Linked DNA regions of Homo sapiens. The protein of the gene in region 6 purifies or fractionates together with the protein of the main gene of each other region. This does not show direct contact. Each region holds a gene or a part of one and is shown on either strand. Other genes may lie near its edges. The genes, in order: DHRS4, SCN2B, HPN, SIRT4, STK39, AARS2 and ARMC6.

Region 1 (3,005 bases), on a different chromosome or scaffold from region 6:
TCTTTCACTTCCTATTTTTTTCTAGCTCCCAGCTCTCCCCACTGCCCTCATCTGTTTCATTTGTTTCAGGTTCTAGTGATGCATTTTGCTGCGTCTCTCCAATTCTCATCCATGTAAGGAGGGAGGAAACAGTGTGAGTACAGTCTGAATACCTCAGTCTCCAGCCTATACCTCAGAAAAGGTGTGATAAGAGTGTGGCTTGTATAGGGCAGGTGGTACAGAGAGGGAATATGGGAAAGTCCAGGGAAGGAGAATGGAGTGGCTGAGAGCTCAGGACTCAGGTAGTGGGCTTCCCTGTCCAAGAAGATGGATGCCTTTCAAGGGGTCCCAGTCAAATGCAAAGCTCCCCTTCCTCACCATCCTGCTGAAGCTAGTCTTGATAAGTCCAGGTGCTAGGCAGTTCACCCTAATGTTCCTTGGGGCCAGCTCTATGGCCAGGGTCTTGGTCAGGCCCAGCAAGGCTGTTTTACTGACATTGTAAGGACTGAAGCCCTGGAGAAAGAAGAGAATGTGTTAGACTCATAGTTTCCAGGTCATTCTTGGTTCTAATAACTAGACATAGAGGGCAGTGCTCAATAGGGATCTCCTGTAAGGGAGGGGCAGAGTTAGGGAACTGTCTTGTGGCTAAACCTCCCCTAGGTTGTGGTTTGTGGAGGCAAGGCATCTATTTTGTGGGCAGGGACTTGGTGGTGTGATTCTACAAGGGGACACAAACTTCCTTGGGTAATAGGAGGGGTGGAAAGATGTGGAGTGGAGGGTGGGATGGAAGAGGTAGACAAAAGGGTTCTTACAGGAGATGGACTGAAGGCTGCTATGGAAGACACGATCACCACTGAGCCGCCTCTGGAAAAAGAAGAGAGCTGACCATCTTCCCATTGTGGACCAGTGCCCTCAGCCCGTGTGGTGTCCCCTCTCACCCAGGCTCTCTCTCACTCTCTGTACCCTCGTTTCTCCATTTCTGGCACCACTGCCTTTGTCATCAGGGCTGGGGCCTTCACATTAATGTCCAGAGTCTGAAGCCAAGAGAAGAAGGGGAAACAGCATGAGTGAAGAGCACTGGAGGAGGCATGAAAAAATGAGGAGTTAGAGTGGGTTCCTAGGATGTTTGTCAGAGCTGACGAAGATCTTAGGATGATATACCTGCATCTTACACATGAAGGAACTGAGGTTCAGGGAGAAGTAGCTCTCACCAGCTGCTCAGCTAGATATTGATACATTAGGTTCAGGTGAGCAAAAATGGAGCCTGGTTCATCTTGTTTCATAATCAGCCAAGTATGATTTGGGCCAGAAGGGGCCTTTGGATTTGAGCTGTGTTTTCTCTGTTTCTTCCAAGTAGGTAGAGCCTGGAATTGTCAGCCTCCTGGACCTGCCCTAGACTACCTGCCCTAGAGTAGGCCATGCTTCTCAGGGAAAATGTGGCCTGACCTTGGATATGTGGGGTTGTTCTAGCACTTCTCTGGCTTCTGGGCTTAGGGAGTGAGATGTTCTTGGCCCTCTAGGAAGGACTGTCTGGCTAGGCATGGTTAGAAAGTGGGATCATGAGGAGTCACCTTCTGGGGAAGCTGGGGGACAGGCTACAATCAGAATCCCCACATCCATAATCTAAAACAAATGTATGACCCTGTTTACACTGTTCTAGACAACTGCTTATATTAAAATATTTCAATCTTACAGAAAAATTGGAGATAGAAGTACAATGAATGTCTAGATATCCTTCACTTAGATTCACCAATTGTTCACATTTTGTCCTATTTGTCCTCTCTGTAGATCTGTACAGTTTTTTAAATGAACCATTGAAACTCAGTTGCAAGTTTTCTGAAAGATTTTATATAATAAAATCAAAAATTACAAAGAACAAAAATAAAAAAATGTAAATTAAAAAAAAAAAACAAACTCAGGGCTGGGCATGGTGGCTCATGCCTGCAATCCCTGCACTTCGGGAGGCCAAGATGGGTGGATCACTTTTAGGTCAGGAGTTCGAGAACAGCCTGGGCAACATGGCAAACCTCGTCTGTACTAAAAATACAAAAATTAGCCAGACGTGGTGGCATGTGTTTGTAATCCAAGCTACTCAGGAGGATGAGACAGCAGAATAGCTTGAACCCGGGAGGTGGAGGTTGCAGTGAGCTGAGATAGCACCACTGCACTCCAGCCTGGGTAACAGAGTGAGGCTCCATCACAAAAATAAATAAATAACCTAAAATAAAATAAGTAAACTCAGTTGCAGATAGTACAATGTTCTATCCCCAAATACTTAGCATACATTTCCAAAGAGTAAGGATTTTCTTTTACACAACCATAATCTGTTATCACAACCAAGAGTTTGACAATGATGATAATTTTATCTAACATATTGGCCTCAATTATCCCCCAAATGTGTGTGTGTGTTTTTTAAAGTCCAGAGTTCAATCAAGGATCAGCCATTATGTTTGGATTTGTCATACTGTGATAGTTTAAAAAATATACAAATTAAAAGAAAAGTTATAGACACATATTTTCTTATGCTTTGCAGATATTGTGTTTTTTTTTTTTTTTTTTTTTTTTTTTTTTTTTTACAAATTGCAGTTTCGTGGCAACCCTGCATTAATTCGAGCCATTTTTCCAATTGCATGTGCTCACTTTGTCTCTGGGTCACATTTTGGTAATTCTTGGAATATTTCAGACCTTTCCATTATTATTGTATCTGTTACGGTGATCTGTGATGAGTGATCTTTCATGGTTTTATTATAATTGTTTTGGGGTACCACAAACCACACCCAGAAAAGAAGGTCAACTTAATCGAAAAATGTTGTGTGTTCTGACTGCTCTGCCCTTCTCTCATCTCTCTCCCTCTCTGTGGGCCTCCATATTCCCTGAGACACATTTACATTGAAATTAGGCCAACTATTAACCCTACAATGGCTTGTAAGTGTTTAAGCAAAAGGAAGAGTCACACATCTTTCACTTTAAATCAAAAGCTAGAAACAATTAAGCTTAGTGAGGAAGGCATGTTGAAAGCTGAGGCA
Region 2 (4,159 bases), on a different chromosome or scaffold from region 6:
ATGTCTGGGTCCCCACCACCACAAGCAGCAGATATGTGCAGTGGGCTAGAGTGAGGACTAGACTTCACTTTCTTTCTTTCTTTCTTTCTTTCTTTTTTTAAGAGACAGGGTTTGGTTCTGCTGCCCACGCTGGAGTGCAGAGGCATGATCACGGCTCACTGCAGCCTGGAACTCTTGATACTCCTTCTTCAGCCTCCTGGAACAGTTAGGACTACAGGTACATGCCACCATGCCTGGCTTATTTTTCTTTTCTTTTTTTTTTTTTTTTTTTTTTTTTTTTTGTAGAGACAGGGTCTTGCTATGTTGTCCAGGCTGGTCTCCAATTCCTGGCCTCAAGCGATCCTCCCACCTCGGCCTCCCAAAGCACTGGGATACAGGCGTGAGCCACCATGCTCAGCCCAGACTCCACTTTCTATGCCTCCACTAACATAATCCATACATTGGTAAGCAGGCCAGTGACTGTGGAGTCAACGGTCTCAAGAAAAACTTGAGGGAAGCCCAGTCATTTGAATTGTTTCTGGCTAAAACTAGCCTCATATGCTTCTGCCGTGGGTAGAGCTGGTTGCCCACCTGCCCTTTCTCTTTGCCACCTCCATAGTCATCCCCACAAGCCCAGCCCCGACAGAGTCCCCTCCCTCGTCACTTGTGGCATCCTCCATCCTGGGGATCGATGCTACTGCAACACCACCAAAGTTCCACTGTCAACTCGGCCCTCAGCATTGGAGTGCCAGGGACATGCCTCATTACAGCACCAATCAAGTTCAAGTTCAAGGTCCCCATTCCTGCATCCTCTCCCACTCAGCTTTGCAGAAGCTTTAGCTTCCTCCCACTACCATCTCCCCACCCCAAACACTCAGACCTCTTCATCGCAGACTCCCTCTTCCTCACCCTAGCCCAGAGCTCTGGGTCCTGGTCACTGAGCCCCCTTTCTATCTTTACTTAGCCATGGCTCTCACCAGGCGGCTTCTCTCCTGCACGAAGTGCTTCCTAACTCCTGAGGAAAGGGTCCTGTCCTCCAGCTGGGCCTCCTTACAACAGGCCACTCACCCAACTCCCCTTCTTTCAGCCTGTCCTGAGACTCTGATCAATTAGGTACTGTTAATATAGCAGTGCCATTTCTTGAACATTGGGGAGTGGAATCCAACGTTTAAGAGAATGTGCTGAAGTCAGACACAGGGAGTTCAAATTTCAGCTCCCGTTACCATAGTCATCTGTTTCCTCCCTGTAACCTGAGTATAATAGAATCTACCTCCGATTGCTGTGAGGGCTAAACAAGATACACAGTGCCTGGGCTCACGAAAAGCATTCTTATGTTAGCCATCGTTGAGTTCCTGCCATGCACCAAATCACAAACACGTCAGGCAGTAGGCATTCTTTAGTTTACCCGGGAGGGAACTGAAGCTCAGAGGGGTTGAGTAACTTGCCTGTGATCATTACGTAAATGACAAAGGTGGCTTGAAACCCAGGTCCTGCCAGAGATTCCATAGCATTCCTGCTCTGATGTTAATATGCCAAGTAACTCAGCAAAGCAGGCTGGCAGGGCCTCTGCACTGTCTGTGTTTAGCACTCCTACTCCAAACCCAGCACATCACACCACAGAAAGAGAGAGAGCCTTTGTGGTGGGGAATAGTTCCATCAACAGTCCTTGGACTTGACTCTCAGTTGCTGCTCCAGCAATAAGTAAGTTTAGGAGCAAGAATGAAACTCTACAAAGCAGGCTTGCAAATAACTTTCTAGCCCACTTCCCCACCAGGAAGTCTCTGAGTGGTCAAATACAAACACTTGACAGGACAGTCTGCAAGACTGGGCTGGGCAGTTCTGAGGCTGGATTTAAAGGGCTGCAACCTCGCTCAGCCTGTGGGTTCCATTTTTTTCCTGAATCTCTACACCTGGCCCTTCCTCCATTCCATCCGGCCCAAGCCAAAGGTGCCTTCTCCATCAGTGCGTGCCTCAGCAGGTCTCCTCCCAACCCAGACATCATTCCCCAAGCCCGCTTCCCACCTACTCCCACACACGTTCCAACAGATCAGTGAGACCGAGTGCCAAGAAGCCAGACCCAGACTCAACTTTCTGCCACCAGCTCCCCTGCACACTCTCCTAATACCCTAAATCCACCAGGATCAAGCTTCTGAAAAGAAGCCCCTTAAGGGAGCATTAAGTCCCAGGACCCCGCATTTGCAGCAACTCCAAAAAATAATCCCTGAAGAGACTGCAGGTCAATCCACTCTCTGCCCCACCGCCACGTAGGTCCACTTAGGGGAAATCCAGAGAAGATTCACCTCCCTTGACAATTGTCAGCCCCCAGCAACACTCAGATCCCCTGACCCAACATTTCTGTGACTAAGTAGTCCCAGGGTTCTGCACTCCCCAGCAACGTCCCTTCCAGTCCCCAGCACCTCCCCTCCCAAGGACACAGAGGGAAAGCGCTAGCAATGTCTTCTTTCCTATCCCCTGCCCCCATCCTCTTCACATTGCGGCTACACTTCTGAACCCTCGGGAGCATGCAGATGTGTCTAACTTACCCAAAGAGAAAAAGAGACTGAGCCCCGTGAGGCTGAAGGCAGGGCGAGGTAGCCAGGCATCTCTGTGCATTTTCAGAGACTGAGATGTTAGTCGGGTGGGCTACGGGAGAGGGTGATTTGAGGGGGCGAGAACTACAAGGGAGGAATGGTTGGATGCTAAAAAAAAATGCACGGATGTACTTCAAAGACATATACAACATTAAGGAAGCTTTATTTCCATCTCTCTAATATGGCCGGCTTGTATGTTGCTGCTAAAAAGAGAGAGAGAGGGAGTGTGTAAAGGAGAGAGAGAGAGATGGGGGGGAGAGAAAAGGGGGATGGGGTAAATATTGTGGTTGGTGGATTTCAAAAAGCAGGTGGGAGGGCATAAAAAAGTCATTTTGAAAAGAACAAAATCCCAGAAATTTTTACCCTCTAAAACAAGAAATAATACAAACCCTGCTTTTTGACTTCACTGGGATGATTGTTGGATTTTGAAAGCTATTAGAGGAATCCATTTATTTTAAAGATTCTGGAAAGGGAAACACCTTTTATCATTTAAAAACACCCCCAGGCTGACGCAGTGGCTCACACCTGTAATTCCAGCACTTTGGGAGGCCGGATGGATTGCTTGAGTCCAGGAGTTCAAGACCAGCCTGGGCAACATGGCAAAACCCATCTCTACTAAAAATACAAAATTTAGCCAGGCATAATGTCGCATGCCTCTTGTCCCAGCTACTGCACCGCACTCCAGCCTGGGCCCTGCCTCCAGAGGGAAAAAAAAAAAAAAAACCTAAAAAAAAAAAGGAGATGCTTGTTTTTGTGTTATTGAAAAGGGTTCAGGAAAGTGAGTTGGAGAGACTTTCAAGGGGTAATGCTTTCCTCATTCTAGCGTTTCCTCTGAAAACAGAACATGTTGAAGCAGGCTGATAGAAAAATACCCAAGAGATCTTACAATTGAATGTAACACAGGCCTTTGGATAAACCTGATTCAAACAAATCAACAGGAAAGAAAAGTTTTTGAGACAATTGGGAAAAGTTAAATATGAACTACATAGTAGATTGTATTAATGAATCATTCTTAATTTTGTTGGGTCTGATAAAATGTGGTTTTGTCCTTTAACATCTCTATCTGTTAAAGACACACATGGGTGGCCGGGCGGGGTGGCTCACACCTGTAATCCCAGCACTTTGGGAGGCCGAGGCAGGCAGATCACCTGAGGTCAGGAGTTCGAGACCAGCCTCCCTAACATGGTGAAACCCTGTCTCTACTAAAAATACAAAAGTTAGCCGGGTGTGGTGGCGTGTGCCTGTAATCCCAGCTACTTGGGGGGACTGAGGCAGGAGAATTGCTTGAACCTGGGAGGCGGAGGTTGCAGTGAGTCGAGATCACTCCGCTACATCCCAGCCTGGGCCACAGAGTGAGACTCCATCTCAAAAATACATATATATATATTCAACGAAAAAAAGAGATGGGAGAATAGGTGACACGAGACTAGTTGTTTTGCTTGATAATTGAAACTAGCTGGTGATGGGTGTAAAGGGTTTGTCATATAGTTCTCTCTTCTTTTGTGTATGTTTAAAACTTTTCTTTTGAAGAAGGAAGAAAAAATAAGCTAACGTCATAAGTAGGAGAACTTGGTGGGTGGAGTCCAAGG
Region 3 (3,500 bases), on a different chromosome or scaffold from region 6:
CAATCTCCCATCCCCACCTCCCACCCTGCCACCATCAATCAACTTTCTATCTCTACCGATGTGCCTATTCTAGACATTTCTTTTCTTTCTTTCCTTTTCTTTTCTTCTTTTCTTCCTTCCTTCCTTTCTTTTCTTTCTCTTTCTTTCTTTCTTCTTTTTTTAACAGACAAGGTTTTGCTCTGTTACCCAGGCTGGAGTACAGTGGCACAATCCTAGCCCACTGCAGCCTCAAACTCCTGGGCTCAAGTGATCCTCCTGCCTTAGCCTCCTGAGTAACTGGAACTACAGGTATCCGTCACCACACCTAGCTCATTTTTTTAAGTGATGGGGTCTTGCTATGTTGCCCAGGCTGGTCTTAAACTCCTGAGCACAAACAATCCTCCCATCTCAGCTGCCCAGAGTGCCAGGATTACAGGCGTGAGCCACCGTGCCCAGCCTTGTACATTTCATACAAGTGGCATCCTACAGTATGTGGCCTTTGCGGCTGGCTTGTCTCATTCAGCACTGTTCTCAAGTTTCATCCTTGTGGTAGCATGAATCAGTACCTCATTCATTTCTATGGTCCAATATTCTCCCGTTGTGTGGATATACCACATTTTTTTTGTTATTTATTTATTTATTTTCAAGATGACAGAGCCTTGCTCTGTCAGCCAGGCTGGAGTGCAGTGGTGTGATCTCGGCTCACTGCAATCTCCACCTCCCGGGTTCAAGAGATTCTCCTGCCTCATCCTCCCGAGTAGCTGGGATTACAGGCGTGTGCCACCACGCCAGGCTAATTTTTGTATTTTTAGTAGAGATGGAGTTTCACCATGTTGGCCAGGCTAATTTTTGTATTTTTAGTAGAGATGGAGTTTCACCATGTTGGCCAGGCTAATTTTTGTATTTTTAGTAGAGATGGAGTTTCACCATGTTGGCCAGGCTGGTTTCAAACTCCTGACCTCGTGATCCACCCACCTCGGCCTCCCAAAGTGCTGGGATTACAGGCATGAGCCACCGCGCCCGGTCAATATACCACATTTTCTTTATGCATTTGTCCGATGAAACAGTCTTGGGCTGTTTCCATCTTTGGGCTATTATGAATAATGCTGCTATGAACACTGATGTACGAGTTTTGGTGCAGACACAGTTTCCATTTGTCTTAGGTATATACCTCCTGTCCTGGGAGTGGAAGTGTTGGGTCCAATGGTAACTTTATGTATACTTCTTGGGGAAATGCTGGCAAATTTTCCAAATTGGCTGCACTGATCATTGATAGTTAAGGCCCACTTTGTGCTCCCTCGAGATCATTCCCCTTATTGCCAAGGATGCCTGAGCCATAAGTTGATTGCCTTGTGCCCCTGGTCCCCTCCTCTGTCCTCCTGGCCTCGGGTCCTCAAGCCCCATGGCTCAGCCCTTAGACTTACCTGTGAGGGGCAGGGGACTGGAGAGGTGGACCAGGGCAATATCGTTGCTGTTCTCCTCGCTGTTGGGGTCCCGAAAGGGAAGATAGCCCCCGTGGTAGACCACAGCCTGCACCCCCAGCTGCAGACCGTGGGGAGAGGCCTGGGCCACGGCACCGGCAAACACTCGCCATCGGGACAGGACCCGGTTCCGCCTACCAGGGAAAGGGGTGGAGGGTGGCCACCTGCCTGGGCACAATCCGCCCTCCTCCCCACTGTCTCTCCGCTCCTCTGCCTCCCCATCATCAGCGCCATTGGGGGGCACTCACTCCGGGAAGCAGTGGGCGGCTGTCAGCACCCAGTCCCCGGAGAGCAGGGATCCCCCACAGAGGTGTGCTCCATCATAGCGAAGGCTGACTTGCCACGGCCACCGGCCCAAGCTGGTGTCCCGGCCTCCCACGATGCGGTCCACGGGCAGCTTCCTGCGGCCACAGTCTGTGGGACAAGGGTCAGCAGGGGGCGGCGACAGGGGACTGGAGCCCAGGTCCCCAGAGCCCAGGCTTGGCCCTGCCCTAGGGGGTCTGAAAGTACATGGCCCCATCCTGGGGAGCTTGAGGGGACGTGGCCTCCCCAAGGGCCTAAAGGAGAGGGTTCTGAGTTTTAGGATCTCACCTTGGCAGATGGCGGCCAAGAAACGGCCTCTGGGGCAATCACTGGGAGAGATGGGATTGGAGACACAGAAAGAAAGGAAATAGAGACCAGTTAAGACAGGTGGAAGGAAAACGGGGAGAGGGAGTGCCTTGGGGGTCTGAGGTGTTGCCCCACCTGCCCGCTGCCCTCCTCACCACACGGAGATGACCTCCAGCAGCCTCTGGGTGTGGGGCAGCCTCCCCTCGTCCACACAGAAGAAGCCCGACGTGCCATTGGCGCCCGCCGTTCGCACGTCCAGCTCGGAGTGGGTCAGTGCCCTGGGCGGGGCAGGGGTTAGGCCTGCTCCCCAGCCCCTCCCGGCTCCCACCCCTCCGAGGGCCCCCAGTACCTGAGGAAGCCCATCTCCTCGCAGCTGAGTCCGGCTACCCTGGCGTTGGAGCGCGAGGAGCACAGCAGCCGCCACGTCCCTTCCGTCTTGTCAAAGACCATGAGCCGAGCGTCCGCAGAGCTGACCTGCACTGCAGGGCGACAGGGCCCGGGGCCGCCTGGGTCCCACAGCCAGGCTCCCCACATGCTTCCCCAGCCGGAGCCCCTCCTGGCCTGTGCTCCAGCCATGTGGTGTAGACGTGAACCCCAGCCCATCGGAGGGTTGCAGCCCCCACATCTGCGATTGCATCTGGAATCATGACTCAAGGACTTTTTTTTTTTAAAGACAGGGTCTCGCTCTGTTGCCCAGGCTGGAGTGTAGTGGTGTGATCTTGGCTCACTGTAGCCTTGACCTCCCAGACTCAAGAAATCCTCCTACCTCAACCTCCTGAGTAGCTAGGACCACAGGCGTGCACCACCACACCTGACTAATTTTTTTGTTTGTTTGTTTTGTTTTGTTTTGTTTTGTAGAGACGGGTCTTGCTATGTTGCCCAGGCTGGTCTTGAACTCCTAGGCTCAAGCAATCTTCCTGCCTCTGCCTCCTAAAATGCTGGGATTACAGGTGGGATTACAGAGCACCATGGCACTCTGCCAGACTCAAGGACTCAGGTCGGACCAATCAACAGCAGCCTTGAGGCTGTGGCCGGCCCCTCCGCGAACCAGGGGAACTTCACTCTCCATTAGAAGTCCTAAGTTGGCTGCTCAGGAGCTGCAGGTCTGGAAGGTGACTTGGACATTCGGGAAGAAAAAAAACCATTTAACCAAGTTCCCAAGAGAATCCAGCACTTGAGGCTGGATCTGTTAAGGGTCATGTTCACCCTCTTGAGGGAAAAAGTGAGCTAACGTGGAGGAGAGTCAAGAGATTTCTGATAACATTTTATTTTATTATTGTATTTTTTGTGGAGAAACCGAAGCTCTTTATTAGTATGTTTGTCATTTGTCTTTTTCCATTTGTCTTTGGTCACACCCTTAACTCATATAAAAAGACCTCTCACTTTATACGTACACAGACAGCATATGGAAAATAGAAGAACAAATTTGTT
Region 4 (3,500 bases), on a different chromosome or scaffold from region 6:
GCTCACTTCAGCCTCAATCTCTTGGGCTCAAGTGATCCTTTCACCCCAGCCTCCTAAGTAGCTGGGACTACAGGCAAACGCCACCGTGCCCAGCTAATTTTTAATTTAATTTTTATTTTTTGTAGAGACGAAGTCTTACTATGTTGCCCAGGCTGGTCTCGAACTCCTGGGCTCATGTGATCCTCCTGCCTTGGCATCTCAAAGTGCTGGGATGACTAGTGTGAGCCACTGTGCTTGGCCTTGAAGCTAGGGTATTTATTCACCATCTCTCATCCCTCATGGGTCCAGGATCACTCTAGGGGAATTAATTCCCTAACATTTTGACTCTGCTCCTCCCAAGGAGGCTTCCGTGGGCAGAGAACATCTGAGGCAAGAGAGACACAGGAAACTGCTTGTAAGAAAATTGTGTAGGCTGGGCGCGGCGGCTCACGCCTGTAATCCCAACACTTTGGGAGGCTGAGGCAGGCGGATCACGAGGTCAGTTGATCGAGACCATCCTGGCTAACATGGTGAAACCCCGTCTCTACTAAAAATACAAAAAATTAGCTGGGCGCGGTGGCGGACGCCTGTAGTCCCAGCTACTCGGGAGGCTGAGGCAGGAGAATGGCGTGAACCTGGGAGGTGGAGCTTGTGGTGAGCCGAGATCGCGCCACTGCACTCCAGCCTGGGTGACAGAGCGAGACTCCGTCTCAAAAAAAAAAAAAAAAGAAAGAAAGAAAATTGTGTCCACCAGGGTGCTGTGGTTCATATCTGTCATCCCAGCAACTCAGGAGGCTGAAGCAGGAGGATTACTTGAGGCCAGGAGATCAAGACCTGCCTGGGTAACACAGCCAGACTCCGTCTCTACAAAAAATTTTTTTAAGAAAGGAAATTGGCTGGGCACGGTGGCTCGCGCCTGTAATCCCAGCACTTTGGGAGGCTGAGTTGGGCGGATCACCTGAGGTCAGGAGTTCGAGACCAGCCTGACCAACATGGAGAAACCCTGTCTCTACTAAAAATACAAAATTAGCTGGGCGTGGTGGTGCATGCCTGTAATCCTAGCGACTCGGGAGGCTTAGACAGGAGAATAGCTTGAACCCAAGAGGCGGAGGTTGCGGTGAGCCGAGATTGTGCCATTGTACTCCAGCCTGCAGCCTGGGCAACAAGAACAAAACTCCGTCAAAAAAAAAAACAAACAAAAAAACAGAGAAAGGAAACTGGGACGGGTGCGGTGGCTCATGCTTGTAATCCCAGCACTTTGGGAGGCAGAGGCAGGCAGATCACTTGAGGTCAGGAGTTCGAGACCATCCTGGCCCACACGGTGAAACCCCATCTCTACTAAAAATACAAAAAATTACCTGGGCATAGTGGCGCACGCCTGTAGTCTCAGCTATTTGGGAGGCTGAGGCACGAGAGTCGCCTGAACCTGGGAGGCAGAGGTTGCAGTGAGCCAAGATTGTGCCACTGCACTCCAGCCTGGACAACAGAGTGAGACTCTATCTCAATAAAAAAACAAAAAGAAAGGAAACTGTTCGAACGTGGCCTTTAGCATGTTCTGAGGAAAATATGAGCTGAACACCAATAGCATGTGCTATAAACTGCTGGGTTTCCAATGCCTAGGATGGCTAGATACATAGACCATAACGTAGCCGGGCAGTAGTCAGAACTCAATCAATAATGAGGGAACAGATACATGGGAGGGTATCATGCTTATGGGTCTGGCAATAATTGTAGCTAATTGGAGACTTATTTCTTTAAGCCCTAGAGAGGCTCCTCTGAGGGCTGAAGTCAGTCTGCCAATGCTGAAATATTTACTGGGTGCCTAGAATGTATGGTGTACATACGTTACACTATGTAGTACATTATAACACTAACTACTGTGCTTCTTAGTGGTCAGAACCAAAGTATAGGCTGGGCTCAGTGGCTCACACCTATAATCCCAGCATTTTGAGAGGCTGAGGGGGCGGATCACTTGAGCTCAGGAGTTTGAGACCAGCCTGGCCAATATGTCGAAACCCAGTCTCTACTAAAAATAAAAGATTGGCCAGGCGTGGTGGCGGGCGCCTATAGTCCCAGCTACTCGGGAGGCTGAGGCAGGAGAATTGCATGAACATGGGTGGCAGAGGTTGCAGTGAGCCAAGATCGTGCCATTGCACTCCAGCCTGGGCGACAGAGGGAGATTGTCTCAAACAACAAACAAAAACCAAAGTATAAAACATGGCCCACTTTATATGCAAGAACTTTGTAATATTTGGGAAGACACAAAAATAACATAATTGGCCGGGCACGGTGGCTCACGCCTGTAATCCGAGCACTTTGGGAGGCCGAGGCAGGGGATCACCTGAGGTCAGGAGTTCAAGACCAGCCTGACCAACACAGTGAAACCCTGTCTCTACTAAAAATACAAAATTAGCCAGGCATGGTGGTGCATGCCTATAATCCCAGCTACTCAGGAGGCTGAGACAGGAGAATCATTTGAACCCGGGAGGCAGAGGTTGTAATGAGCTGAAATCGCACCATTGCACTCCAGCCTGGGCAACAAGAACGAAACTCCTTCTCAAAAAACAACCAAGCAAACAAACAAAGAAAAGCACATAATTAATGATAAATGACAACGCATGATTGTGAAATTGTGTGGTTCTTGATTTATATGCTGTGCATGTTCAAATAAACAGATTTAGTAAAGATTGGAATAATCAGTTGAGAAAGCTTTTTAAAAAAAAAATTTTTTTTTTTAAATAGAGACAGGATCTTGCTGTGTTGCCTAGTCTGGTCTCGAACTCCTAAGCTCAAGCCCTCCTCCTGCCTTGATCTTCCAAAGTGTTGGGATTACAGGTGTGAGCCACCATGCCTGGCCCAAGAAAGCTTTTTTTTTTTTTTTTTTTTTGAAACACAGTCTTGTTCTTGTTGCCCAGGCTGGAGTGCAGTGGCACGGTCTCGGCTCACTGCAACCTCCGCCTCCTGGGTTCAAGTGATTCTCCTGCCTCAGCCTCCCAAGTAGTTGGGATTACAGGTGCCTGCCACCACCCCCAGCTAATTTTTTGTATTTGTAGTAGAGGTAGGGTTTCATCATGTTGGCCAGGCTGGTCTCGAACTCACTCCTGACCTCGTGATCCGCCTGCCTCGGCCTCCCAAAGCGCTGGGATTACAGGCGTGAGCCACAGCGCCTGCCCCAAGAAAGCTTTTATGGGTACAGGGGGCTTGAGATTGGCTCAGGTTTGTCTAGGCAAGAGCGGGAAACAGGGCTTTCCAAATGAAGGGAAGTTGTAGATCCCAGAGGAGTCTGGCCTGGCCTCTGTAGAGGTTTGGACCTGGGACTTGCAGAAACCAGATTGTCTGGGAAAGTTAGGCCCAAATCATGGTTACATTTGAAAATCAGGCAGTGCAGTTGGGTCTGCTGTGAGACACCAAAGGGGTTTATTAGTGGTTTCTGAGCAAGCAAGCAACATGATAAAAATAGCATTTGAGGAAGGCTAAACAGGATTAAAAAGAGCAGGTCAGGGAGGTCAGCCTGAAAGACC
Region 5 (3,500 bases), on a different chromosome or scaffold from region 6:
TAATCTGAGTTGATAATGTGGGTGAGAGAATTGGTCCTTATATACCTTCTTTGAAGTAATGGCTTAGGCAGCCCCTCAGGTAGGCTTTCGAGTAGGAAAGTTACCCAGGTACTCAACTGTGATTCACTTGTGTTTTGCTTGCCAATTTTCACCCCATGGTACTATGTCATGTTTTGCTCTTTTTATAGAAAGAAATTCAAGCCATGAGTCAGTGCAGCCATCCCAACGTAGTGACCTATTACACCTCTTTTGTGGTCAAAGATGAACTTTGGCTGGTCATGAAATTACTAAGTGGAGGTAAGTGGATTTTGTTGTTGTTATTTATTTGCTTGTTTTCTCTCCTTTTGTTGGAACCAGCATATTGGAGAAGACTTTAGATTGAATCCTTTCTCTCCTGTGTTTGAAAGTTTGTTTGGTTTCTCATTGCCTAGAGGATAACGTCCAGATTGCTTCACATTGACCTTCAAAGCTTTTCATAATTTTGCTTAACTTCCGAGAATGTGTATGTCCTCTTCTCCAGGTATGAAATGCCCGACCTTCTAGGCTGAGAGGCAGCCCCCGGAATGTATTATGTGCTCTCATGCCTTTGCCCCTGACCTGTCCTCTTTCTCAGCCTTGCATCTCTCCTTTGTTTTCCATGTGCTCAGGCCTAAAAGGTCACATCCTCTCCACAGTCACCGCTTACTCTTCAAAAAAGTTAGCCAGTCCTTTCTCCTTGAGTCCTTTCTTTTTAACATTGTTCAGGTCCTTAACACATTGCAGTTTGCTGAATTATCTCAGTGCCATTTATCAGAATGTTCTGTGATGATGGAAATGTTCTGAGGTGCTGCTATCTACTTTTTACTAATCCCATGTGACTCTTAAGCACTTGACATGTGGCTAGTGTGACTGAGGGACTGAGTATTCAATTTTAATTAACTTACATTTAAATCACCTTGTATGGCTCCAGTATTGGACAGTGCATATTTAGGTTGTGGACTTTGTGAAGATTGTCTAATGCACTTTGAATTCATTGAACTTGGCGCCCAGTAGGTGCTCACTAAATGTGGTTTCAGTTGACATGGGGAGAAATGTGTGCTACATATTCACTTGCAGTGTTGATCAGAAATGGCACTATTGTCATCCTATTGTTGCATTTGGGAAGGGAAAGTCACTTCCTCTCTCTAGCTTCAGATCCCTGCAGTGATGCAAGCCATTGACAATTTAATTTACAAGGTGCTTTCACATCCTGTATTTTATTTCTTTTAATCTTCTAACATCACTATCAGAGAGGGAATGATAATGATAACCGTTGCCTTTTTTGAACACTTACTCTGTGGCTAGATCCTGTCCAAGGCAATTTACTGACCTTATCCCATTTAATCTTCACAGTGTCCCTGAATGGCCTGTGTCACCATCCCTGTTTTTCAGAAATTACACCAAATTTCAAGGGAGTTTAGCAACTTGCCCAAGGTCACACACATAGTAAATGTTGGTGCTGGAATTTGTGACTTTAACATCTGTTGACTTAAAAATTTGTATGCTGTGCTGCAAGTATTTACACCTTCGTTTTGCAGACATGGGCACTGAAGCTTAGAAAGCCCAAGTGATTTCCTTGGGAACACCCAGCATACCCACATCTCTGGTGTGTTCTCTTTCGAGGGCTTGATTCTCTGGGTATCTTTCTGAGACATGAAGTATGGTTTAGGATCAGAGGAGAACATTTTGCTGTGCCTGGACAACCCAAAACTAGCATAGCAGAATTTATATGATAGAGCCTATTTTAATCTGCAGATGTCGAGGGAGGTGTTTTAATGTTTTCCTTTTTTAAAAAGGAAACTCTCTTGGATCAAGCAGAAGCCCAAAAATGAGATGACGAAGGCATTGTAATTGGCTTGGGTCTGCTTGTGTAGGTCTCGGTGGGGAGCCCTGGGGAGCTTAGTTCTGTTCTGTTTTCAGTCTTCCTCAGTCTTATTAGTCATTGTTTCCTTGAGTGCCTACTTCAGTTTTTAATTAAAAAGAAAAAAAGAAAAAGGAAAAGAAAAAGGAAGCCTGCCAGAGCTGGACTGCAGTATTGAGTGCTGGGACTGCCCCTTTATTCAGCAGAGGAACTTGCGCTTTGCCAACAAGATGATCTTAAGGCATTCTCTTTTTGTGGGGTTCCACCAACTCTGAGGAAATGAGAAATTCTGATGACTTGAGACCCTGAATAGTCCCAAATGCTCTGCTCAAGCTGAAGATTTTACCTTTTGCTTTATGAAGCTGAGAATCTTCTGTTTTCTGAGGAGGATCTGACAGAAAATTTCTTTGTCTTTTTGAGTCCAATTTAGCCTCTCTGGGCTTTAGGTAAGAACAGATTTTAAACAGGTTTCCACAGGTAAGGACGTGGGCAGACGTGGACTCTTGTTCATTTTTCTTTTAGCAGGACAGAAATGCATGCATGCCTGGTATGGTATATCCTTATACAATAAAAAGAAAATGTTTTTGGAATTATCATTTTTTAAATGACACAAAAATCTAAGAGTCAACAAATAAACAGAGGTTTTTTTTTCCTCTGGGGAAAAATATGCATTTGTTTTCTTCTATTTCATTACATTGAATCTCTTAATGAGGGGCAGGCAGCTGTATCTGATGGGGAAGCTCAATCCTCTTAGTTAATTATAAAGAGCCTAGAGCCAAATTCAGGTCCTGAGGTAAGCCGTTTGTTAACTCTTCAGAAATGTCAAACCCCCAGGTAATTTTGGCTTTTAAACTGACCCAGGGGTTTGGAATACTAATTAATATGTGTTGAAACATGAATTCACAGTGCCAAGGATACTAATCTGTATATGGTAACAAAGTACTAGGTATCTGTTTGTTTATTGTAAGTGTTAGTGCCTCAAATATATCAGGTAAATGAAATAAAGATCAGCCAGGCTCAGTGGCTTATGCCTATAAGCCCAGCACTTTGGGAGGCCAAAGGTGGGCAGATCACTTAAGCCCAGAAGTTCAAGACCGGCATGGGCAACGTGGTAAGACCCCATCTCTACAAAAAATACAAAAATTAGCCAGGCGTGGTGGCACGTACTTGTAGTCCCAGCTACTTGGGAGGCTGAGGTGGGAGGATCGCTTGAGCCTGGGAAGTTGAGGCTGCAGTGAGCTGTGATTGCTCCACTGCACTCCAGCTTATATGACAGAGGCAGACTCTGTCTCAAATAAAAAAAGAAAAAGAAGGAAAGAAAATAAAGATCAGGTAGTGTCACAGGAAGGAATCTTCCGGTTATAAGCAGAGGTCTAGAAACAACATACTTCTTTCCCCCTCCCACCTGTGATTTAGGTCCTCAAAGAGTGTGTTTTTTTTCTCTCAGCAGTTCACTTCTGCCTTTTCTCCTGGCCTCATACTCCTTTCTTTGTCAGTTCAGACTTTTTGCACCCTCTTTGGAGGGTTGCTCTTAGGAATTTTTGTGAGAAATACTGTAACCAGAAAAGGAACCAGCCATGGAACGGCCATGAACAGCCTTCTGGTCCCTGACCCAGAATCC
Region 6 (2,559 bases):
CGCTCCTTCACACAGTCCATGCCCTGTGCCAAACTCTCTTCCAGCCCTGGCGCGACAAGATGTGGTTGGGGCCCCAGATCTCCTGGAGGGCGAGAGGGACAGACCAGAGGGACGGCTAGTAAAAAAAAAGAAATTGGCCTTCAGGAAGGGAGAGGCAGCCAGGGTGGCGGGGCTTTCAAAGGGTAGCTTTGACTTCAGCTCTGCCGAGGACTACTAGTTGGTTACCCTGGATGAACATCTCGAAGCTCTGTTAACTCATCAATAAATCAGGGGTGCCAAAACTCATCTTGGCGCTCGCGGAGGAGCTTGAACCTGGGCCTGTGGTGAGCACTGCTAAACAGGCTACTGCCCCAGTGGCCAGGATGCTGCTTTGCAAGCAGTGAGGGGCCAGGCACCCGGGATTGGGTCCCTTCAAGCCCTCAGCAGTGCCTTACCAGCAAATCATCAGTGCCTTAATTAGAATGAGAAACTGCAGAAAATGATGCCAGGCGGGCCCACGCTGCTCGAATAATTTTTACTAGACAGAATTTGGTAGCCAGGGAGCCCTTGATTTGAAGATGGATCCCCTGAGGCCCTTTCCTTCATCTAGCAACAGAGATCTAGGAACAAAGGCAGAGGTCCAAAGTCTGGCTGTCTGAGGTGGACTCATTCTGGTAGGGAAGGAGGGCTTTCCTCCATCTCTGCTTCCTCCTGCTTTGAAGTGCCAATTTTCAGCTTCAGCTCAGGCTTGAGGCAGGTGCTGTACAACTTGTTTTAATAAGCATATTGTTTGTCTGACCCCGCTCTCCAGCCTCCTCACCTGCCCCTATCCCAGCTCACTGCTCAGTGGCACTGGCCACCTCACGGCCTCTGCATTGGCTGTTCCCTCAGGCTGGAATGCTTTTCCCTGATTTCCACACGGGTCACACCCTCACCTCCCAGCTCCCTGCTCACATGTCACCTCTTGGTGAGGGAATATCACCATCCACACTCCTGATCCCCATTCTCTATTTCCCCCCCAGACCTCATCACCATCTGACACTTTCTCCCTTCTTTTTTTTAAGACAGGGTCTCACTCTGTTGCCTGGAGTGCAGTGGTGCAATCATAGCTCACTGCGGCCTTGAATTCCTGGGCAAAGTGATTTTCCCACCTCAGCCTCCCAAGTAGCTGGGACCAAGGTGTGGGTAGTCTCAGCTACCTGGGAGGCTGAGGCATAAAGATTACTTTTTTTTTTTTTTGTAGACAGGGTCTTGCTGTTTGCGCAGGCTGGTCTTGCACTTCTGGCCTCAAGCGATTCTCCAACCTCAGCCTCCTAAAATGCCAGGATTATAGGCATGAGCCACCAAGCCTGACCCTCTTCTTTTGCTTTATTTCCTGTTTCCTCCACATGAAGCAGGCTCCATGAAGGAAGGAACTGTCAGTTTAGTGCCCGCCACGTTCTCAGTTGCTCAATTCATCAACAAACCAGCAGGGCCCAATTTAAATTAGAGGTCATTGTTAATGAAAGAAGTAATAGCAAAGAAGGTCTCCAGTGCTGAAATGATTTTCACAGGATGGTTCTGTATCTTCCCAGTAGCCAGGGAGCCCTTTGTCTGCCCACTGTTGCCTGGCACGCAGAGCCTGTCCGAACACTCATGGCAATGAAGATGGCCCGATTTGGATCCTGGGTGGCCTTTCAGACAGTGTGAGTTCAGACTGGTCTTAGGTTGCTGGGAGGGGCAAAACTACTCTTTTTTAAAGGTAATAGAACCTTCTGGAGCTTGCTATCCTCTGTGAAATAATTATTTGAGACAGAGTCTCGCTCTGTCACCCAGGCTGGAGTGCAGTGGTGCGATCTTGGCCCACTGCAACCTCCACCTCCCAGGTTCAAGCGATTCTTCTGCCTCAGCCTCCCGAGTAGCTGGGACTACAGGCGTGTGCCACCACACCCGGCTAATTTTTTGTATTTTTAGTAGAGATGGGGTTTCACCATGTTAGCCAGGATGGTTTTGATCTCCTGACCTCATGATCTACCTGCCTCGGCCTCCCAAAGTGCTTGGATTACAGGTGTGAACCACCACACCCGGCCAGTGAAATAATTTCTAATGTGCAGTCACAGCCATAATTGTCCATGTCTTCTCTTTCACCAAGGGGGTGTGTGTCTTTGGGCCCAGTTCTGCCTTCCCTAGCCCATGTCTCCTTGTGTCACGTAGGCCCTGGCCCAGGTGATCTTCTTTGGCTCAGCTGCTTGGCCTCCAGCCTCTAGTCCTCGCTTCAGCATGTGGGAAGGTTCTGCTGGCTCCTTCAGGGCTCCTGGCATTGCCTTTAGTCCATGTGGGTCCCTGGGCGGACCTGGGTCAGAGCTGGCTGAGGGCATAGGTTTGGGCTATACTGAGGGCAGCTTCCAGGTCAGTAGTGCTTCCGGTGCCTTGGGCCACCACTCGTGAGCCCCACGCCTTGCCCCCCATGTGGCTGCACACTGCCAGTGCCCAGGCCTCTGCTGTGAAGGTGGGCATGGCACCCTAGGAACAGAATCAGAAGAGGAAGCGATGCAGAGTGGCCCTCCCTGCCAGCATCCACTCAAGGTACCCTCAAGAGTG
Region 7 (3,500 bases), on a different chromosome or scaffold from region 6:
AAGAATACATACAAATGGCCACTAATACATGAAAAGATGCTCAATGTCACTAATCATTAGGAAAAATGCAATTCAAACCTACAGAGAAGCCAGGCGTGGTGGCTCATGCCTGTAATCCCAGCATTTTGGGAGGCCAAGGCAGGAGGATCACTTGATCCCAGGAGTTCAAGACTCGCCTGGGCAACATACGGAGCATTCATCTCAAAAAAGAAAATCAAACAGAATTACTGTGTGACCCATCAGTTCCACTTCTGGGGATACACTCAAGAGAACTGAAAGCACAGTCTCAAAGAGATACCTGTACACCCATGTTCATAGCAGCATGATTCATCAGAGCCAAGAGGTTGGAGGTTGCAGGGAGCTGAGCTCGTGCCATTGCACTCCAGCCTGGGCGACAGAGAGAGACTCTGTCTCCAAAAAGAAAAACAAACAAACAAAAAAACACTACAATGACAACAAAGAAATTCAGGCACATAGTATGCTATGGATATACCTTGAGGACATTACGCTAAGTGAAATAAGACAGTCACCAAAAGACAAATACTGTGATTCCATTTATTTAAAAAAAATTTTTTTTTTTAGATGGAGTCTTCCTCTGTCACCCAGGCTGGAGTGGAGTGGTACCATCTCAGCTCACTGCAACCTCCACCTCCTGGGTTCAAACAATCCTCCCGCTTCAGCCTCCTGAGCAGCTGGGACTACAGGCATGTGCCACCACGCCCGGATAATTTTTGTATTTTTAGTGGAGACAGGGTTTCACCATGTTGGCCAGGCTGGTCTCTAACTCCTGACCTCAAAGTGATCTGCCCACCTCAGCCTCCCAAAATGCTGGGATTACAGGCATAAGCCAGGGTGGCCAGCCTGTGATTCCATTTATATGAGGTCCTGGAGTAGTCAAATTTGCAGCAACAGAAGGTAGAATGATGGTTGCTAGAGGCTGAGGGGAAGAGGAACATGGAGTTTGTTTCAGTATCGCAAGTCATGGATAGTCATGATGGTTGCACAACATTATGAATGTACTTAATGACACTGAACTCTACATTTAAAAATGGTTACAATGGTAAATGTTTTTATGCACATTTTACATAACAAACAGCGGTGTAGCACTTCAGCAGAAACCCTGTAAGAAACTTGAAAAGCTCCTGACAGAAATGCCTTTGAGGATGCACAGTATTGGAGTTAGAACTACCAAGATTTCACAAGGAATTACTAAGTTAGCAAGGATGTGTAAACTAAAAATAAAATTCTTGGCCGGGCATGGTGGCTCATGCCTGTAATCTCTTCACTTTGGGAGGCCAAGGCAGGTGTATCGCTTTGAGCTCAGGAGTTCAAGACCAGCCTGGGCAACGTGGTAAAACCCTGTCTCTAAAAAAAATACAAAAATTAGCCAGATGTTGGTGGCTCACACCATGTAGTCAGCTACATGGGAGGCTGAGGCTGAAGAATTGCTTGAGCCCGGGAAGCAGAGGTTTCAGTGAGCTAAGATCACACCACTGCACTCTAGCTGGGGAGACCCTGTCTCAAAAAAAAAAAAAAAAAAAAATCTAAGTCCTCATCCATACTAAGGACCCCTCCTCTTGGCCAAAGGTATTCCAAAGGTAACCTGAAAAACTACTTCAGGTCATGATGGGAAGTGGCGGTCAAATATGTCTCATTTTATCTTCCTGCCTTTGGAAGTCAGACATAACTGATCATCGTAAGACTTTTTTGTAGCAATAAGACACCAAGTTCCAGCCTAACTAATACAGTATGGAAAGAAATCAAAGTATTTTACCCTAAAATATATTTCTCTGACATATTTTGAAATGGCCCTGCAAAGCTATCTCTTGTGGGGAAAAGCTACATTCTACAGAGATTCCCTTTCCAGGTCTTTTCCCTGATTCAGGAGAGAATTAACTAAGAGTCTGGCACCTTTTTAAGTCTGATAAGAAATATTTACAATCTATTTTCTCTGAAGCCTGCTACCTGGAGGCTTCCTTGATAAACCCTTGATCTCCACAACCCGTCTTAAGCAAAATATTCCTTTCTATTGATTCTAGGTCTTTAGATAACTCTTTCAATCAGAAAATCTTTTTTTTTTTTTTCTGAGTCTCATTCTGTTGCCCAGGCTGGAGTACAGTGGCATGATCTCGGCTTACTGCAACCTCCGCCTCCTGGATTCAAGTGATTCTCCCGCCTTAGCCTCCCAAGTAGCTGGGATTATAAGCACCCACTACCATGCCCAGCTAATTTTTGTTTTTTGTTTTTTGTTTTTTTGAGATGCAATTTCGCTCTTGTTACCAAGGCTGGAGTGCAATGGTGCAATCTTGGCTCACTGCAACCTCTGCCTCCCGGGTTCAAGCAATTCTCCTACCTCAGCCTCCTGAGTAGCTGGAGTTACAGGCACCTGCCACCATGCCCGGTTAATTTTTGTATTTTTAGTAGAGACGGGGTTTCATCATGTTGGCCAGGCTGGTCTCGAACACCTGACCTCAGGTGATCCACCTGCCTGGGCTCCCAAAGTGCTGGGATTACAGGTGTGAGCCACCACACGTGGCCTAATTTTTGTATTTTTTGTAGAGATGGGTTTTGCCATGTTGGCCAGGCTGGTCCCAAACTCCTCAGCTCGATGCAATCCGACCACCTCAGCCTCCCAAAATGCTGAAATTACAGACGTGAGCCACAGCACCTGGCCAGAAAAATCTTTAAATGTGTCTATGACCTGGAAGCCCCGGCTTTCAGCTGCCCTACTTTTCCAGACCACACCAATGTACGTCTCACATGTATTGATTGATATCTCATGTCTCCCTAAAACGTATAAAACCAAGCTGTAGCCCGACCACCTTGGACACATGTTCTCAGGAGCTCCCGAGGCTGTGTCATGGGCCTTTGGTCACTCATATTTGGTTCCGAATAAATCTCTTGAAATATTTTATAGAGTATTTTCATTGACAGATGGTTGCTAAAATGCAGGTGGCAGAGCCAGCTGTGTTCTACCTATGACAATTTTCTGTGGCGCTCACCACCTTGCTCATGGAGGGGGGCTTTACCCATTGACTCCTGGAGTCATTCAGTCTCTGTGACTAATGCCTTTCATTCTACAACTTCCCACATATAAATGTGGCCTGGCTGGCTCAGTTTTTCCCTGGACAGTCTCCAGACATTATTTTCCTTCTGTTTCTACAAGCCTGTTTGCAACAAATCTTATGACACAAACAGATTAATTTCAACGACCATCACAATGTTGAATTTTTTTCTCCCTCAACAGATAAGCATTTTTTACACATCTAAGCCAAGATGCACAAAGGTCAATTATGCTGCAGGGCATTTGAGAAGGGGGTTGGTTCAGTTGCGAACTGACCGCTGAGATGCAAACCCCAGTGTCTGGTGGGAGGGACAAGGCAGGGACTTTCAGATTTTACTATAAATGCTTGAGTATTGCTTGAATCCTTTATGCTAAGAATGTATTTCCACTCTTCCTTAATGAAAAATAAAATTTAAAATTAGCCAGGCATGGTGGC

What was found.
Region 1: the proteins of AARS2 (region 6) and DHRS4 purify together in Homo sapiens (co-immunoprecipitation; one large-scale study listed by IntAct). This does not show direct contact.
Region 2: the proteins of AARS2 (region 6) and SCN2B purify together in Homo sapiens (co-immunoprecipitation; one large-scale study listed by IntAct). This does not show direct contact.
Region 3: the proteins of AARS2 (region 6) and HPN purify together in Homo sapiens (co-immunoprecipitation; one large-scale study listed by IntAct). This does not show direct contact.
Region 4: the proteins of AARS2 (region 6) and SIRT4 purify together in Homo sapiens (co-immunoprecipitation; one large-scale study listed by IntAct). This does not show direct contact.
Region 5: the proteins of AARS2 (region 6) and STK39 fractionate together in Homo sapiens (co-fractionation; one large-scale study listed by BioGRID). This does not show direct contact.
Region 7: the proteins of AARS2 (region 6) and ARMC6 purify together in Homo sapiens (co-immunoprecipitation; one large-scale study listed by IntAct). This does not show direct contact.

Annotation. Positions count from the first base shown.
Region 1 is NC_000014.9:23,963,770-23,966,774, reverse strand, and holds part of DHRS4 (dehydrogenase/reductase SDR family member 4), read right to left. Parts: intron 2,198-3,005; coding exon of another isoform or gene 2,177-2,197; exon of another isoform or gene 1,014-2,176; coding exon 943-1,013; exon of another isoform or gene 844-942; coding exon 792-843; exon of another isoform or gene 493-791; coding exon 358-492; exon of another isoform or gene 70-357; intron 1-69. UniProt on the Homo sapiens protein: NADPH-dependent oxidoreductase which catalyzes the reduction of a variety of compounds bearing carbonyl groups including ketosteroids, alpha-dicarbonyl compounds, aldehydes, aromatic ketones and quinones.
Region 2 is NC_000011.10:118,173,840-118,177,998, forward strand, and holds the start of SCN2B (sodium channel regulatory subunit beta-2 precursor), read right to left. Parts: upstream 2,801-4,159; 5' UTR 2,593-2,800; coding exon 2,523-2,592; intron 1-2,522. UniProt on the Homo sapiens protein: Regulatory subunit of multiple voltage-gated sodium (Nav) channels directly mediating the depolarization of excitable membranes.
Region 3 is NC_000019.10:35,058,721-35,062,220, reverse strand, and holds part of HPN (serine protease hepsin precursor), read right to left. Parts: intron 3,163-3,500; exon of another isoform or gene 2,549-3,162; coding exon 2,419-2,548; intron 2,348-2,418; coding exon 2,225-2,347; intron 2,093-2,224; coding exon 2,052-2,092; intron 1,875-2,051; coding exon 1,709-1,874; intron 1,595-1,708; coding exon 1,404-1,594; intron 1-1,403. UniProt on the Homo sapiens protein: Serine protease that cleaves extracellular substrates, and contributes to the proteolytic processing of growth factors, such as HGF and MST1/HGFL. Plays a role in cell growth and maintenance of cell morphology.
Region 4 is NC_000012.12:120,305,321-120,308,820, forward strand, and holds part of SIRT4 (NAD-dependent protein lipoamidase sirtuin-4, mitochondrial), read left to right. Parts: intron 1-3,500. UniProt on the Homo sapiens protein: Acts as a NAD-dependent protein lipoamidase, biotinylase, deacetylase and ADP-ribosyl transferase. Catalyzes more efficiently removal of lipoyl- and biotinyl- than acetyl-lysine modifications.
Region 5 is NC_000002.12:168,164,096-168,167,595, reverse strand, and holds part of STK39 (STE20/SPS1-related proline-alanine-rich protein kinase), read left to right. Parts: intron 1-188; coding exon 189-297; intron 298-3,500. UniProt on the Homo sapiens protein: Effector serine/threonine-protein kinase component of the WNK-SPAK/OSR1 kinase cascade, which is involved in various processes, such as ion transport, response to hypertonic stress and blood pressure.
Region 6 is NC_000006.12:44,298,231-44,300,789, forward strand, and holds the end of AARS2 (alanine--tRNA ligase, mitochondrial), read right to left. Parts: intron 2,482-2,559; coding exon 2,317-2,481; 3' UTR 501-2,316; downstream 1-500. UniProt on the Homo sapiens protein: Catalyzes the attachment of alanine to tRNA(Ala) in a two-step reaction: alanine is first activated by ATP to form Ala-AMP and then transferred to the acceptor end of tRNA(Ala). Also edits incorrectly charged tRNA(Ala) via its editing domain.
Region 7 is NC_000019.10:19,047,103-19,050,602, reverse strand, and holds part of ARMC6 (armadillo repeat-containing protein 6), read right to left. Parts: intron 1-3,500.